2 linked regions of the Homo sapiens genome follow. The protein of the gene in region 2 interacts with the protein of the main gene of each other region in a pairwise test. Each region holds a gene or a part of one and is shown on either strand. Other genes may lie near its edges.

Region 1 (7,034 bases), on a different chromosome or scaffold from region 2:
CAAGGTAGCATGAGTTAGAAGAACCCAACATCTGAGGGCCTCTCCACCGCAGGCCTTTCCACAGCTTCCACACTTGACCTGTACTAATTCTCATAGCAAATCTGTGGAATGATTACTACAGCCCTGGCTTTACAGCTGAGGACACTGGGGCCCTAAGAGATTATTTGCTCAAGATTACATAACTAATGAGAAGCAAACTTTGGACTTGAACTCAGGCATGTCAGACTCTAAAACCAACACTTCTTGCACAGAAGTGGAAATTTGAGAAGGGCCATCAGTTCTTAGGAATACAGTCAGCATTTGTTGGAGTCCTTGCTGACATTTGTGATGAGCTCCTGTCTGACAGACTCAGTCCACAATTCTTGAAACCTTTCCCCTAAATATCTGTTCTTAAGATTTGGGGCTCAAAATTCCCTAGGTAACTAACTGTGCAATCCCTCATTCCCAAAATTATCAGTCCCTCCTAGAGCAATGATTGTTTATTAGCAATAAAGAAAATGAGTTACGAACCGGTGGTCATAAATGGGTCTGTAGTTATACTCCGCTGATTGGACATACGCTGTCGAATGTCAGGATTTTGATCCAAAAGTGTCATTGTGGCTTGTTGCCAAGGACATGGCCACTGTAATTGATCATCATTGGCTCCAGAGATCAAGTGGAAATATATCCCTGCATTAGTCACATGGGCTAGATTTAAGTAAATCTGAAAGGCATAACCTTTAGAAGAGTAAAATGGAGGGCTATACAGAGTTCCATTTGGGCTGCCAATGAACTGTGTGAAATTCCTTATATGCCAGATATGATGAGGGCACCGTGTTTCCGAAAGATTGATGTCATCAATAGACAGACCACCCAGTGATGCACCAGAGCCTTTGCGTCCTTCAAACACCACTCTAAACTTCTTGGTCACTTTCAATGTTACATGATAAAGTTGCCAGCTCCCAGTGGGTATTTCTGCAAAAGAGTCATTATTATTTCAAAGACAAAGAAGTTCAAATCATGTACATGTCAACATTAGATTTCTAGCCTTCTTAGACAAAGGGTCATCCAAAACCGATTTATTTCTACAGGTCAGAAGTATGGTTTTGCCAAAGCTCCAGCCTAGAATTATTTACTTCAAGGTGCTTCTGTGGGGTCACACTGTTCTCTGGAATAGCTGAACGTTTGTCTAGCTGTTTCTCAAATAGATCACCCTTTCCTAGAGATCGGTGAGTAAATAACAACATCTAGCTCATGAGTACTTCATGCCCTACCTATGAGTTACCTGCCATTCTCCATTAAAGGGCCAGCAAACCCAACACTTGTAACACTTCTACTCAAGATTCCTGTGATACTCAGGCAAAGCCTTCTTTAATATATTTATAGTTTGATTGGAATACTTCCCTCACATACAAAGTCTTCAATCAACTTTTTGGTAATATTAAACAAAATCCACCAAACCCTAGAAAGCCTACATCCTGCAATCTACTCTTTAGATCACTTCCCAGTAACTCAGCATTGTAAGTATTTATCTGATATTTGGTACCACCTCCTTTCTTTCCAACCTGTACTTCCTCCCCAACTATTAGCCCATACCCCTCGCTAGCAGCACATAATATGCCATTCTGTCTGATTTTCTTATATCACATACTCAAATAAGAAGCAGTATACTAAATAATCTGCAGAGGCCCCCAGATGAACAACAGCTGAGGAATTCATGTCAAACTAGTGGTTAACACAAAGTCTTAAAACAAAAATATGTTGGCACTTAATGTGAAACACAGTTACTTGAAAATAAGCTAGACATACCCAAATGACAGAAAATAAGCAAGCTTCTTAAGTGCCTTTTTGTGTTATTGTGTATCAATGACGAACCCACAGATTGCTAATAGGAAGGACCCCCCTTCCAGTCCTGGACAATTATATATATTACAGATACATTATATCAATATTTGTATTAATTTAGATATTAATACATAAAATATAATATTTATAGTAACATATATGGCTTATATATAAGGCTTTTATATATGTAATATATAATATATTATATATAATTATTCTTTATATATTTTACATTGTTACATAAATAATATATATGTATAATGTGTGTATATGCTTAGTGAGATTAAGAACCTTACTGCTTACAGGTGTTCACAAAGAAAAATATCGCCTGTATTTCAGATTGTTTCTCATTGTTGAAAACAGGAGGAAAATGGCATACTATATTGCATAATATGGATCCAATTGTGGAACAAATTGAATTACTCAATTCATTCAAGTCATGAGATGATTAGGTGGAATAGACAGTAATATATTTGCCAGCCCACAGCCCCTCCCTTTCTCAGTCACCCCCTTAACCATCTACTTGCATAGGTGGTCAACATGGCTCTCCTCTCTGACACATTATTGGTATGAAGGGTGGGTACCCATTTCCCACTCAGGAATTGCTCCAGAAGCTGTGTTTAACTTAAGACATAAGTATCCCAGTTCTTCACTGGGATTTATTTTTTAAGCTTTATATTAGAGGAAGAGTCCTTTTTCCAGACTGATAGCAAATTTGGTCAAATGTAAGCTGGGAAGTGAAACAACCGAAGTACCAGTCTTATAAAGACAGCCATTCTGAGATAAAACAAGAGGTCCCCAGCAATGTTCAGAGACAGATCTATTAATAATTCCCCCTCAAGCCAGTGTCTCCCTCATCTGTCCCACAGGCTGTAACTAACATTTAGCCAGGAGCCCATCCTATTTTGCCTAAGCTAGTTCACATTGTATTTTTATGTATTTTATTTTTATTTTATTTTATTTTATTTATTTTTTCAGAGATGGAGTCTTGCTCTGTCGCGCAGGCTGGAGTGCAGTGGCATGATCTCGGCTCAACTGCCACCCCCGCCTCCCGGGTTCAAGCAATTCTCCTGCCTCAGCTTCCCAAGTAGCTGGGACTATAGGCGTGTGCCACCACTCCCAGCTAATTTATGTATTTTTTCAGTAGAGACAAGGTTTCACTATATGTTGACCAGTCTGGTCTCAAACTCGTGACCTCAGGTGATCCGACCGCCTCGGCCTCCCAAAGTGCTGGGATTACAGGTGTGAGCCACTGCGCCCAGCCTTGTATTTTTATTATTTGCCAAGAACTGACCTCCATAGTGCCAGAGACTGATCTACAGTTTCTTAAGTGAGTGTTACATAACAGAGCACTCAGAAAGAATCTTCATTCTAGCTTCCTTTCCACAGCTTAAAACAAGAATCTAGTTCTTAGTTGAAGTATAGTGACTCAGTAGCCCCTGCCCTATTGTAAATTGTTGCATTAACTAAAGAAAAGACCTAAGATTGCCTCATTTTAAATCCAGACAATAAGGATGTTGACATTGTACCTTTTATTTCTTCCACAAGGGTTAAATTGCCATCCACATTGTCTGCAGAATACTCCCTGATATAGATGTTCAGTTGATCACTTTCACTGCCACTGTTATATAAGTAAAATTGCAGGCACTGAAATCCTCTTTTAGGGTACAGCGTTCTACTTTCCAGCACTGCTGTGGCCCCCACATTTACAGAGCTGCTATCGAAATGCATGAAGAAACCAGAACCTGTTAAAGAAAAGCAGAATTGAGAGAAAAACAGATACTGGGTATAGGAATGTGTGTTTGTTAATGGTGGTGCTAGATTCTTTACGCGAGGCATAAGTAACATCCATATATAAATCGCCAGGGAGAAATGACAGAAGCCTAAGCTACATATCTGGCACTTGCAAAAGCTAGCAGATTGACATAACAGTATAAAACTCAAACCTCTCTATTATTTATAAAACGTTTACTTACAATAGTAGTTTTCCGTGGGCACTAATCCTTGCTTATCTTCATTTGTTATGAGCTATAAAGATAAAGCAAGTTTAAGTATCAAATGCTAACTTTTTAAAAATCCACTGTAAGGCTGCAGGTCAAGCCCAAACAGCAGGGCTAAAAGGTAGATTCTACATGGGACACCTTTCAAGTGTCCAAAACCCTGGTCCAGCTCCAAGTGGAAAGAGCTACCATTGGACAAAGATGCTACAGAGGGTTGTTCCCCCGCTGAGAATATGAAAAAGGAAAATGGAAATTAAGTCAAAACGAGGGTTTGAAACTTGGGTGGGTAGAGAGTTGTAGCATCTGTGTCTCCCAAGGGTAATTCAACGTGAACTTCTAGGTCTTTCTGGAAAGGTGAACACACACTGCGGACAGAGGTGAGAGTCCAGCCAGGAAACCAGGGCCTTGGCTGACCTGCCCGCCCCCCTTTTTTTTTTAAACACTTTCTAACTTCTTTGGCTTCAAACTGTCACAAAAAAAGAAGGAAGAAAAAAAGAAAAGGAAGAAAGAAATTCAACTTTCAGAAGATATTGTTAACTACAGCAACCATCTGGGGAGATTCACATTTTAATATTTTTAAAATGATACTTGTAATGAAAAAATTGAGAATAACTGAACCTGATAATTTCAGAGGCACCTCCCACTTATCTGCTTTCATTATCTGCAATACTTAACCTTCTAAGCCATCTCTAAAGAAGGCACAGCTAGTAATTCTGGTTTGAGTGTATATATATTTTCTTTCATTTTTTTTTTTTTTTTGAGACAACGTCTTACTCTGTTGTCCAGGCTGATACGCAATGGTATGATCTCAGCTCACTACAACCTCTGCCCCCCGGGTTCAAGTGATTCTCCTGCCTCAGTCACCCAACTAGCTGGGACTACAGACATGCACCACCACACCCAGCTAATTTTTGCATTTTTAGTAGAGACAGGGTTTCACCATGTTGGCCCAGCTGGTCTCAAACTCCCAACCTCAGGTAATCCGCCCACCTTGGCCTCCCAAAGGCCGGGGATTACAGGCATGAGCCACTGCACCCGGCCCAATTTTCTTTACCTTATTTCAAGTATTCGCTTAGTTTCCACTATATGCAGGGAATTGTGTTGGGCATTTAAATATGGTTCTAGGAGCAGGCGATTTATGAAAGAGACAACATTAGGGAACCTTTCCCTTACCACAGAAATTAGTTTTCAAAAACAGAAAAAAGTGAGAGCTACCTGGTCTGGATTCTTCTTCTTTTCCCCCTCCCTCCCTATCTACTTTCCTCTGGTCTGAGTAGGACCACTATCCACTATCCAAATATGCATTTAAAAAGAAAAATAAAAGGAAAAGCACCTTTTTGCCATTAGAGGCCTCCAATTCCTGCCTAGATCATCTGAGCTATTAAGCACTGGCCCTAAGTTCTGAAGTCTAGTTTTACATATTTGATGCCAGAATAAGCAAATACGTAAAAATTTGGTCCTTGTAGCCAAATAACTACTTAAGGCAAAACAAAATGAAAATGGAAAAGGATACGCATCTGAAGAAAATTAAATAAACTCTGCTTTTTAGATATTTTTGTAACAGGAGCATATAATCACATCCAGCTACAGTTCTGAAACAATAATTCGCAGCCTAGTGCTGTCCATTGGAAAGAGTCTCTTGTATTCTGCAAACTTCTAGGAAACAATAGTACTGCCCCTGAGATAAGAGGCCTTGCAGGAGGCCCAGTCTGGTACACTCTCCTATGGGAACGCACTGGTAGAGGCATCACAGAGCCCAGCTCTGACTTGTAGAAAGAAAAATAAACTCAGGAAGGAAAAGCAAAGAAATTAACAATGTCTTTATCAGGTGCAAGGCCTACTTCTCAGTAGTAACCTAATGAATAATCATTAATAATTCTGATAGAAATTAGAGATAAAATCCCATTCTTTCATAGAGAAGTATGTGGCTGTAGCCACTGAGTATACAGTCTAGGAATATCTCACTCCTGTTACCTTGGCACTGGCCCATGTTGGAGTGATCACTCTCTGGCCCCCTGGGAACCTGTGAAACCCGTTGCCAGTCAGCATTATCTCCTGAACTTTGGATCATGCCACACACATTTTCCAGTTCAAAACTGCACGAGTCCATAAAACTCAAGGAAGAGGCTACAAAAAGCAAAAAACAATTATTGACACTCATACAACATGATAATCTAAGTAACAAAAACTGAACTTATCACAGTATTAGAAATGCCAGGTTGGTATTACAGGGAACACCTAGCTGATTCTGGATGATGGTGGCTTAAAGATCCCTCTTTATTTGCAGAACCCCTACAAAGAAGGTAATGAATTCTGTAGATCTGAATAAGCTCCCTGCCTGAAGTCTTTTTTAAAAAAAATTTTCTAATTTGTAGAAACCTGAGTCTATACTCCCCTAGTTATTCGAATCATTAAGCCACAATCCAGATTATTTGATCCCATTCATATTACAACTAGACATATCATTTTGGCTAAAAGGAAGTGTGAGTATCAATCTGACCGAGGTTTGAATTAGTAACAGCTTTAAAAACTTGCCTGAGGCATATTCCTACAGGACCCAATTTGTTTTTAGATCTCAACACCAGACGTGGTGAAAAGAAAAATGCTGCTTCCAAGTTGTAGATTGAGATCTGAGTGCTATTCTGTTTATTTCCTGAATATCAAATCTCTATAATCGCAGAAACCCCACCAATGCTTGACAAAATGGCACAGACCATCATTTTTTCCTACATAACAGCGGAAAATATAAGTCATTTCAAAGAACCTGTCACATACAGCAGTTATACAGTTGATTCAACTTTAGGAGATCAGAGTCACTGAAATCCATTCGTTGGCCGATCACATCCTCAAAGTCTGAGATTCTTGTGACAATTGTCGGCTCTGTTCCATTTTGGAATGCAGTTTTACTGTAGTGCATTACTGAAGTGTAATCATAGGGAACATTCAGGGAATCTGATATATCGTCACTATAGGTGTTAAAATTGTGCTCTCTGCCTAAAGGATAAATAAAAAATCTTTACTTGATGTTCACAAAATTCAGCTTATCTTACTCCAAATACTGCTCACTTAGAAATGGAGAATATAATAAACTCAAGCAATTTTTGCTACAACTAACAACAGTTTCATTATTCCCATCTTACAATATAATATTCAAGCTTAGAACTGTGATACCAGCAGTCACACTGAACATATCTAAGGTTCTATTGCAGC
Region 2 (6,994 bases):
TATATCACTGTAGGTGGGTATTGGAGCTGGAATTACATGGAAACCTCATATTCTAGGGAGTGACACAAGTAGGAAAAGGCAACCCAAAGTTACTTTTACCTTGGTCCTTATTCCTTATCTCCTTGGGTTTACAGAGATCTGTCTACATAAAATGGCAAAGAGGTTTGCATTGTAGTTTCTGTAAAGGGAATAGCTATGTAAAAAGAAGTAGTGATTGAGCATTAGGAAGGAAAACCAACATTTACGGATTTCAATTAGTGTTGCATCATTCTTGCATTTAACTTATGCACTGACTTGCAAGCCTACCCCAGTGTAGATATAACATCCTGGCATTTATCTTGTGTGCACTGCCCTAGGTGTTACCATATATATATATATATGTTTTATATATATTTTTTTCTCACTTAATTCCCCCAAAGATTCTGAGACAGGTTTTTGTAAATCTTACCTCAGGAAGCTAAAGCATGGAGAAATTTACCCAGAGCTGGAGCTTGAGGCTATATATTTTTTTTTTTCTGAGGATAGGGAGAGATGATACTGTGTATGGTAAACTTATTAATATTTGTTAATTCAGCCAACATTTTGTGTATACTGTATGCAAGATGCTAATAGATATGCTGGAGAAAATTAAGACAGTGAATGGATTTGATGCCCTGTGAAGCATAAGAGGTTACTGTTATTTCTAATTACTACAAGAATTCTTGCTTCTTGGTGCATAAGATCTACTGTGGGGAATAGTACAAGTGCTGACCATCTGACTTTAGAGCTGAACAGTTTGGGACTTGATCTCAGCTTCCCTATTCACTGGTTACTGGGAGCTTGTTTTCCTATCTGTAAGATAGAGGCAATAAAACCTAGCTTATCATGCGAGACTATTGAATGCAAGGAGAGAATATTAAAATTCATCCCAGTAAGTCCACTGTAGTCCTAGGCAGCATGACAGAGGTCACAGATCTTACAAGTAACATATCAATGGCAAGTTGGGGATAAGGATTTGGTTTTTAGGGTTTTACTTTCTGTTTTTGATGACTCTTATTTTTGAGAAAATGTGGAAGGAGTAAGTAGAAGAACAGTTTTTTTCAGTGCAACATCAGGCAAAAGAAAAGCAGATTTTTTTCAGATGGTTAAAGCCTATGGCAAAATAGCTAACTTTCTCTTTAAGGTGATTGGTAACCTGGAAAGGACAGCTGGCGTGGGCAGAAAACTTGTTCAAGACAAACACTGTCCCAGCATTTTTTAAATTCCAGACATTACCCTGGGGCAAACACCTCAACTTTTTCTTTCATACCACCTTCCAATATCTTACTCCTGAGCCTAGGGTGCTCAAACCAAACTCTGCTTCTGATGTGTTGTCAGTTTTCTCTAAAATCACTTATCTTCTGTGGGACTGGAGTCAGGCTGATGTGGAAGGCTCCCGCAAACCCTATTTAGGCTCTCTGGAGACAGAATGGGTGGTTGGAAATGGAAGGGGGAATGAGGGAAATTTAACCCCATAGAATATCTTCCCCATGAGAGTAGCTTAGCACTACACGAAGAAAGCTAAAAACCACAGACTTCCAGGGCTTGTCTGATACGCAGGTTCCCTTGAGTGCTCTAATAGGTATTAGAAATAATATGATAGGGAAACAAGCTCTTGTAGGGGAGGAAGAATCTTTTTCTCTACCTATCTTAGGTTCTCCGGCTGGGTCCTTGTGCATTAGACTGGCCAAAGACAGATGAACAAAAGTAAAGCAAGTTTATCAACACGTGCGTTGTTCATATAGGTAACATGGGAATACTCAGAGATAAGCAACTCAAAGATTTGGTTAGAACTTGGGTTTATACAGCATATTAGCCAAGGAACAATAAATTTTTAAAGAAATGACAAGATAAAGGATCTTGAGTCTCTAGGGGCAGCAAATTGTCGGAAAACAAATATATGGGAGACTAGTTGCAGATGAAGGCCAAATACTAAGGTTTATCATGTAGATTTTTCTTGTGTTGTCTCCAGGCTGACAGGGGTCTAAAATTGTCTCTGGTGATTAATCTTTGTCTTTCCTGGTAGAGCAGGAAGGAGGTACACCTTCGTAAACTTATATCCTGCTTTTTGGCAAATAGAGGGAGGGCAGAGTGCTTTTCTAGTACCGTGTACCTATTTGCTTCTTCCTAATTGCCTTCAGCTCAAAATAATCCTTAAACCAAAGTGGCATACACTGCCAATGCTCTTGAGTAGATTGAAGGCTCCAAAGTAAAAAGTGCTGTACTGTAGTATTGGATCTCCAAGCATCAGCAGTGAGTCAGGTATTACAATGCTGTTTTCAGTGAGTGTGCCATCCGTCTATGAGGAGAAATGAGAGGAGCTAGAAAAATAAACTGACAGCTAGAAAAATACTCCACTGAATCAACAAATAGACATTTCTTGAAACAGTAACATGCTCAATGTGCAATTTTGAAAAAGTAAACTGAGCAAGGATCATGAAACATGATGGTGGTGAGAATTTATACTTCTCAGGTAGCCAGGGGAAGCTAGGTTTCCACAGATTCCTTTGTCTTTCAGTCCTTTTGAAAACGGAGAAAAAGCAAGAGAAGAGGGACGGCACCATCAGGTAGAGTGGATCTCAGCTAGAATGAGGGGAAGTGGCCCAGAATCCAACCTCCTCCAAAGAGCTGTGTGACAGGCAAGTCCTATCCTTTCTGCACCTCTTTCCTTAAATGTAAGTTGAAGCATTTGGACCAGACTGTTTCAATGATCTTCTAGATTGCTTTTGCCAAAACAGAACTCTCCATTCCTGTAAGATAAGTACACAATGGCTCTCAGAGATCTAAAAACTGGCCTTGGTTACCTGCAAACTTTGAGGCCCCAAGGCACAAAAATAATAGCTTTTTTTTTTTATTTTTTTTTTTAAGGTTCATGAAAGCTTCGGACACAAAAGCTTATATGGTCTTCGTCTCTATAAATAAACCAGGGAGTAAAGAAAAACCCCGCTAGTTTCAGTAAAGCGTTGCTATTAAGCAAAGCAAACCTATGCAAATATCAAGTTCTTAATGAGGAGTGTTTCCTAAGGGGCCTGTCCTCTGGTACCCCGCCTCTCCTCTGCCACAGTCATGTGAAGGCAGACAGGCACACACTCGCACACTAGCACGCACTTGGGAGCTCAGGGAACATAACACTGGTTAGTGAGTCGGTGTCCCTCTCCCATCGATTGCAACTTTTCCCCTCCTTCCCTCTCCTGCCTCTCCCCACTTTCTACATCTCCGTTCTCAGGAAGGCTCAGGGAGGATCCCCCGCTGCGTGCACTGCGTTCTGAGAGGCCGGGGAGAGACTCTGGGCCCGCGGTCGGGGCGGAGCCAAGGTCCCAACCCACATTGAACGGGCTTGAGGATTACTTGGAGGGCTCAGGATCTAGGAGGAGGGCCCAGGGCACTGGGTTGGGGTTACTCTGGGAAAGCTCTGTGGGACCAGGTGGGACCTTAGGGCTGGAGATGGACTCTGCGAGCTGGGGGCGGAGTTCTAGACTGGCAGGAGCGGAGTTCTGGGTGGCGGGGGCGGGGTCGGGACCAGCAGGGACGGCCTCTGAGAGTTGGGGGCGGAATTCTGGGCCGGTGAGGGCTGGGGCGGGACCAGCAGGGGAGGCCTCCGCGAGCTAGGGGAGGAGCTCTGCATTGTCTGGGGCGGGGCTTCGAGTAGCGGTAGCGAGGTCTGGAGCCGCAGGCGCTGCCTCCGCGAGGTAGGGGAGGAGCTCTGTACTGTCAGGGGCGGGGCTCTGAGTAGCGAGGCCGGGTCTGAACTATCAGGCGCGGCCTCTGCGAGCTGGGGGCGGGGTTCTGCACCGGCGGGGGCGGGGTTGTGAGTGGTGGGGGCGGGGTCTGGAGCAGCAGGCGCCGCGTTTGCGAGCTAAGGTCGGAGTTCTGCACCGGCGGGGGCGGGGCTCTGCGTGGCCGGGGCGGGCTCGGGATCCGCGGGGCGACTCCCGGTCTGGCTTGGGCAGGCTGCCCGGGCCGTGGCAGGAAGCCGGAAGCAGCCGCGGCCCCAGTTCGGGAGACATGGCGGGCGTTAAAGGTACATCGCGGTCCCCGGCTCGCTTGTCGTGTGGTGGGGTTGCCACCTCCGTTCCGGTCAAGCCTGGGGCTGCGCCTTCCGCGCGCCGTTGGGGAACGGCCTCACCACCCTTCCCGCCTCTCCGGTTCGGGAGGCGATCGACCGCTCCCTTCGTCCCTTGGGGTGTGGGTGGAGCGGCGTTTCGGGGGAGCCTTGGCCCTTTTTGCAAGGCCGCTGGCCTTCCTGCTCTCCAGTGGCGGCACCAGACCCCTCCCCAGCCTGAGCCCTCGGCGAGAGCGGCGCCCTCCACCTCTCCTGAGTTTTTAAACAAGGTTTCCACTTCTTGACGCCACCCTAACGCCTTTCTTCTGGTTTTCTGCCCCTCCGCAGTTTCCTATTTGCCACAAAGGACCCTTTGTCTCCAGCGTTCTTAGCATTGGGAAACTTAATCCTCTTTTTCCTAATGATTTTTCCAACTGGGCAGAGTTGACCGCGGGCGGGTGTCAATGGAAAGCACCCAGAAAGACGGTGTTTCTCGCAGTCGTGGAGAGTAGATTACGTGTAATTTTAATACTGCTTTCTTCGGTGTTTTCTCTGTTTATGGACAGAGAAGAAACCAGTGTGTGTGTAGTATGTGTTTTTTGCATGGGGCAGTTGGTAAAAACACCGCGTCCCTTATCTGTATGGCTTCAGAGCAATGCGAGACGGAAAAGGTTTTTTGCAAGGCTTCCTGTATTTTGGTAGGAAAACATTCCATTTCTAATCTGTCGAATAGAGTAGCATGACTTGTTTTTATATTGGCTTTTATATCATCCTTGAAATTTGCACCCAAAGATATCCCCAGTTAACATCTGCTATAAACATGTAGATAGTATATATACGAGTACGCCTCTGTTCACTATGAATTTATCCGAGTATGTGAGCTGTTAGCAGCAGACATTTTATCGTTATTTCTGGCTGACTTTTATACTTAATATCAGTTTAGTAAACATGGTTTACTTGGAGAGTGTCGACTGTGTTATATATCCATTTGAAGCCAATGCCGAAAACAGATGAAAAGTAGTGTCTCAGTACTACACATGATCAGAAACTACCAAATCATGATCACGTTTATGTGTGAATGTGTTAGAAAATTGTGATGTAGTGAAAAAAAAGGAAGTCTGAAATGGAAACGGACTAAGGGAAGGAAGCATTTTACAGATTGTTCAACTTTTATTGAGGAACTACTGTATGCCAGAGACTTAGGATACAAAGATAAATGAGAAGTTATTGGTGGGTGACAGAGCTGGAAATAATTATATTACTATGTCAGTGTTTATGTTGGGCTCAGATGCGGTGGGAGAACAGATGGTGGGTTGGATTTTGTCCTCCAAAAAGATGTGTTCAAGCTCTAATTCCCTGGTACCTGTGAATGTGATCTTATTTGGAAGTAGTATCTTTGCAGATATAATCAAATTAAAATGATAACTGGTTTAAGGTGGGCCCTAATCCAATGACTGGTGTCCTTATAAGAAGAGGGGAATTTAGACATAGAGACATACAGGGAGAATACCATGGGAAGACGGAGACAGAAATTGGAGTGATGCAGCTACAAAGTCAGGAGCACCAAAGATTGTTGGCAACCATGCTGGCAACCACTGAGTGTTAGGAAGAGGCAAGGAAGGGTGCTTCCCTACAGCCTTCAGAGGGAGTGTGGTGGCGCTGCTGACACCTTGATTTCAGAAGTCCAGCCTCCAGAACTGTCAGAAGATAAATTTCTGTTGTTCTCAGCCATCCAGTTTGTGGTACTTTGTAACGGCAGCCCTAGGAAGCTGATGCAGGTGGGATTGATTCCCCTGCTCCAGAGAAAGGACTGTTTTCACAGAAGAGGCGATGCTTGAACTGAATCTGAAGGGATCAATGTGGCTTCCCTTGGCAAGGCATGGAGTGAAGGTGGAGTATATCCCAAGTGGGGAGGACAGCACGTGACATGGCGCAGGGCTTATGAAACAACATGCCTTCTTCTCTTCAGGTACTTAAGCTACATTAGTAAGACCAGAACTTAGTGGTGAGGGTTGAAGCTGGCTGGACAGGCAGTTAGGAGTGAGTCAGGCGATGGTGAGCCTCCGTGCCAGAACAACTTGTAGGCTGTGGAAGCAACCGCAAAGGGATGGCAGCGGTGATATATATAGTTGAAAGATCACTGTCTGCTGTGTAGAGGATGGATTGGAAGAGTCACAGAGGCAGGAATAAGAGGTTAAGGGCCTGCACCAGGGCTGTAGCAGAGAGTTTAAGAAGTCTGGGAGATTGAGTCACCTTGACCTACTGATTCATTGGAAGGTGGAATGCAATCATGGTGTCAGTCCTCTAAGATAGGACCTTTAAAGTGTAGGGATAGTGGTTTGGTTTTACACGTGTTACACATGTTGAATTTGAGGTTCTTGTTGGCGGTCAAGGCAGAGAAGTCCAGACTGGAGGTGGAAGTACAGGCCTAGTTCTTTAGGACCTACTCTGGGCTGGAGCATCAGTTGCGGCCGGGCCCTTGTGGTAGTAGGAGCTTTGGGTTGAACATAAGTTTTCAGCAGGAGTGCGTGGAGTGAAAAGAGAGATGGGGTTGGATTTTTGGTCAACTCCAACTTTAAGAGATTCAGAGGATGTGATTCCTGAAAAAAGAGGAAAAAAAAGACCAAAAAGAATCAAACAGAAAGATGGTTGTGAACGTTGAGAAACTGGTATCAGAACAGAAGGAAGAGGTCTGCAGTACCTAGCTTTGACAGGCCTCATGGAGGAGGGGGTACTGCCGATGGTCAGGCACAGAGGAGAGGAGCAAAGCCTGCTGGGAAAAGATCATCTGAATGAAATAGTATGTGGTATTTGCTTTCCATCCACACATGGGCATTTTCCATTAAAGAGTGGAAATGTAAAAAGATATGTTAAAATTGACAGTGTTTCTTTGTCCCTTAACATGTGTATACTTTCAGATGTTTTTTAAAAAGC

Evidence for each region.
Region 1: the proteins of LEPROT (region 2) and MEP1B interact in a protein complementation assay, tested with the Homo sapiens proteins (one study listed by IntAct).

What each region holds. Positions count from the first base shown.
Region 1 is NC_000018.10:32,207,036-32,214,069, reverse strand, and holds part of MEP1B (meprin A subunit beta isoform 1 precursor), read right to left. Parts: intron 6,819-7,034; coding exon 6,600-6,818; intron 5,952-6,599; coding exon 5,799-5,951; intron 3,570-5,798; coding exon 3,354-3,569; intron 955-3,353; coding exon 511-954; intron 1-510. UniProt on the Homo sapiens protein: Membrane metallopeptidase that sheds many membrane-bound proteins. Exhibits a strong preference for acidic amino acids at the P1' position. Known substrates include: FGF19, VGFA, IL1B, IL18, procollagen I and III, E-cadherin, KLK7, gastrin, ADAM10, tenascin-C.
Region 2 is NC_000001.11:65,416,702-65,423,695, forward strand, and holds the start of LEPROT (leptin receptor gene-related protein), read left to right. Parts: upstream 1-3,966; 5' UTR 3,967-4,023; coding exon 4,024-4,039; intron 4,040-4,626; exon of another isoform or gene 4,627-4,715; coding exon of another isoform or gene 4,716-4,758; intron 4,759-6,994. UniProt on the Homo sapiens protein: Negatively regulates leptin receptor (LEPR) cell surface expression, and thus decreases response to leptin. Negatively regulates growth hormone (GH) receptor cell surface expression in liver.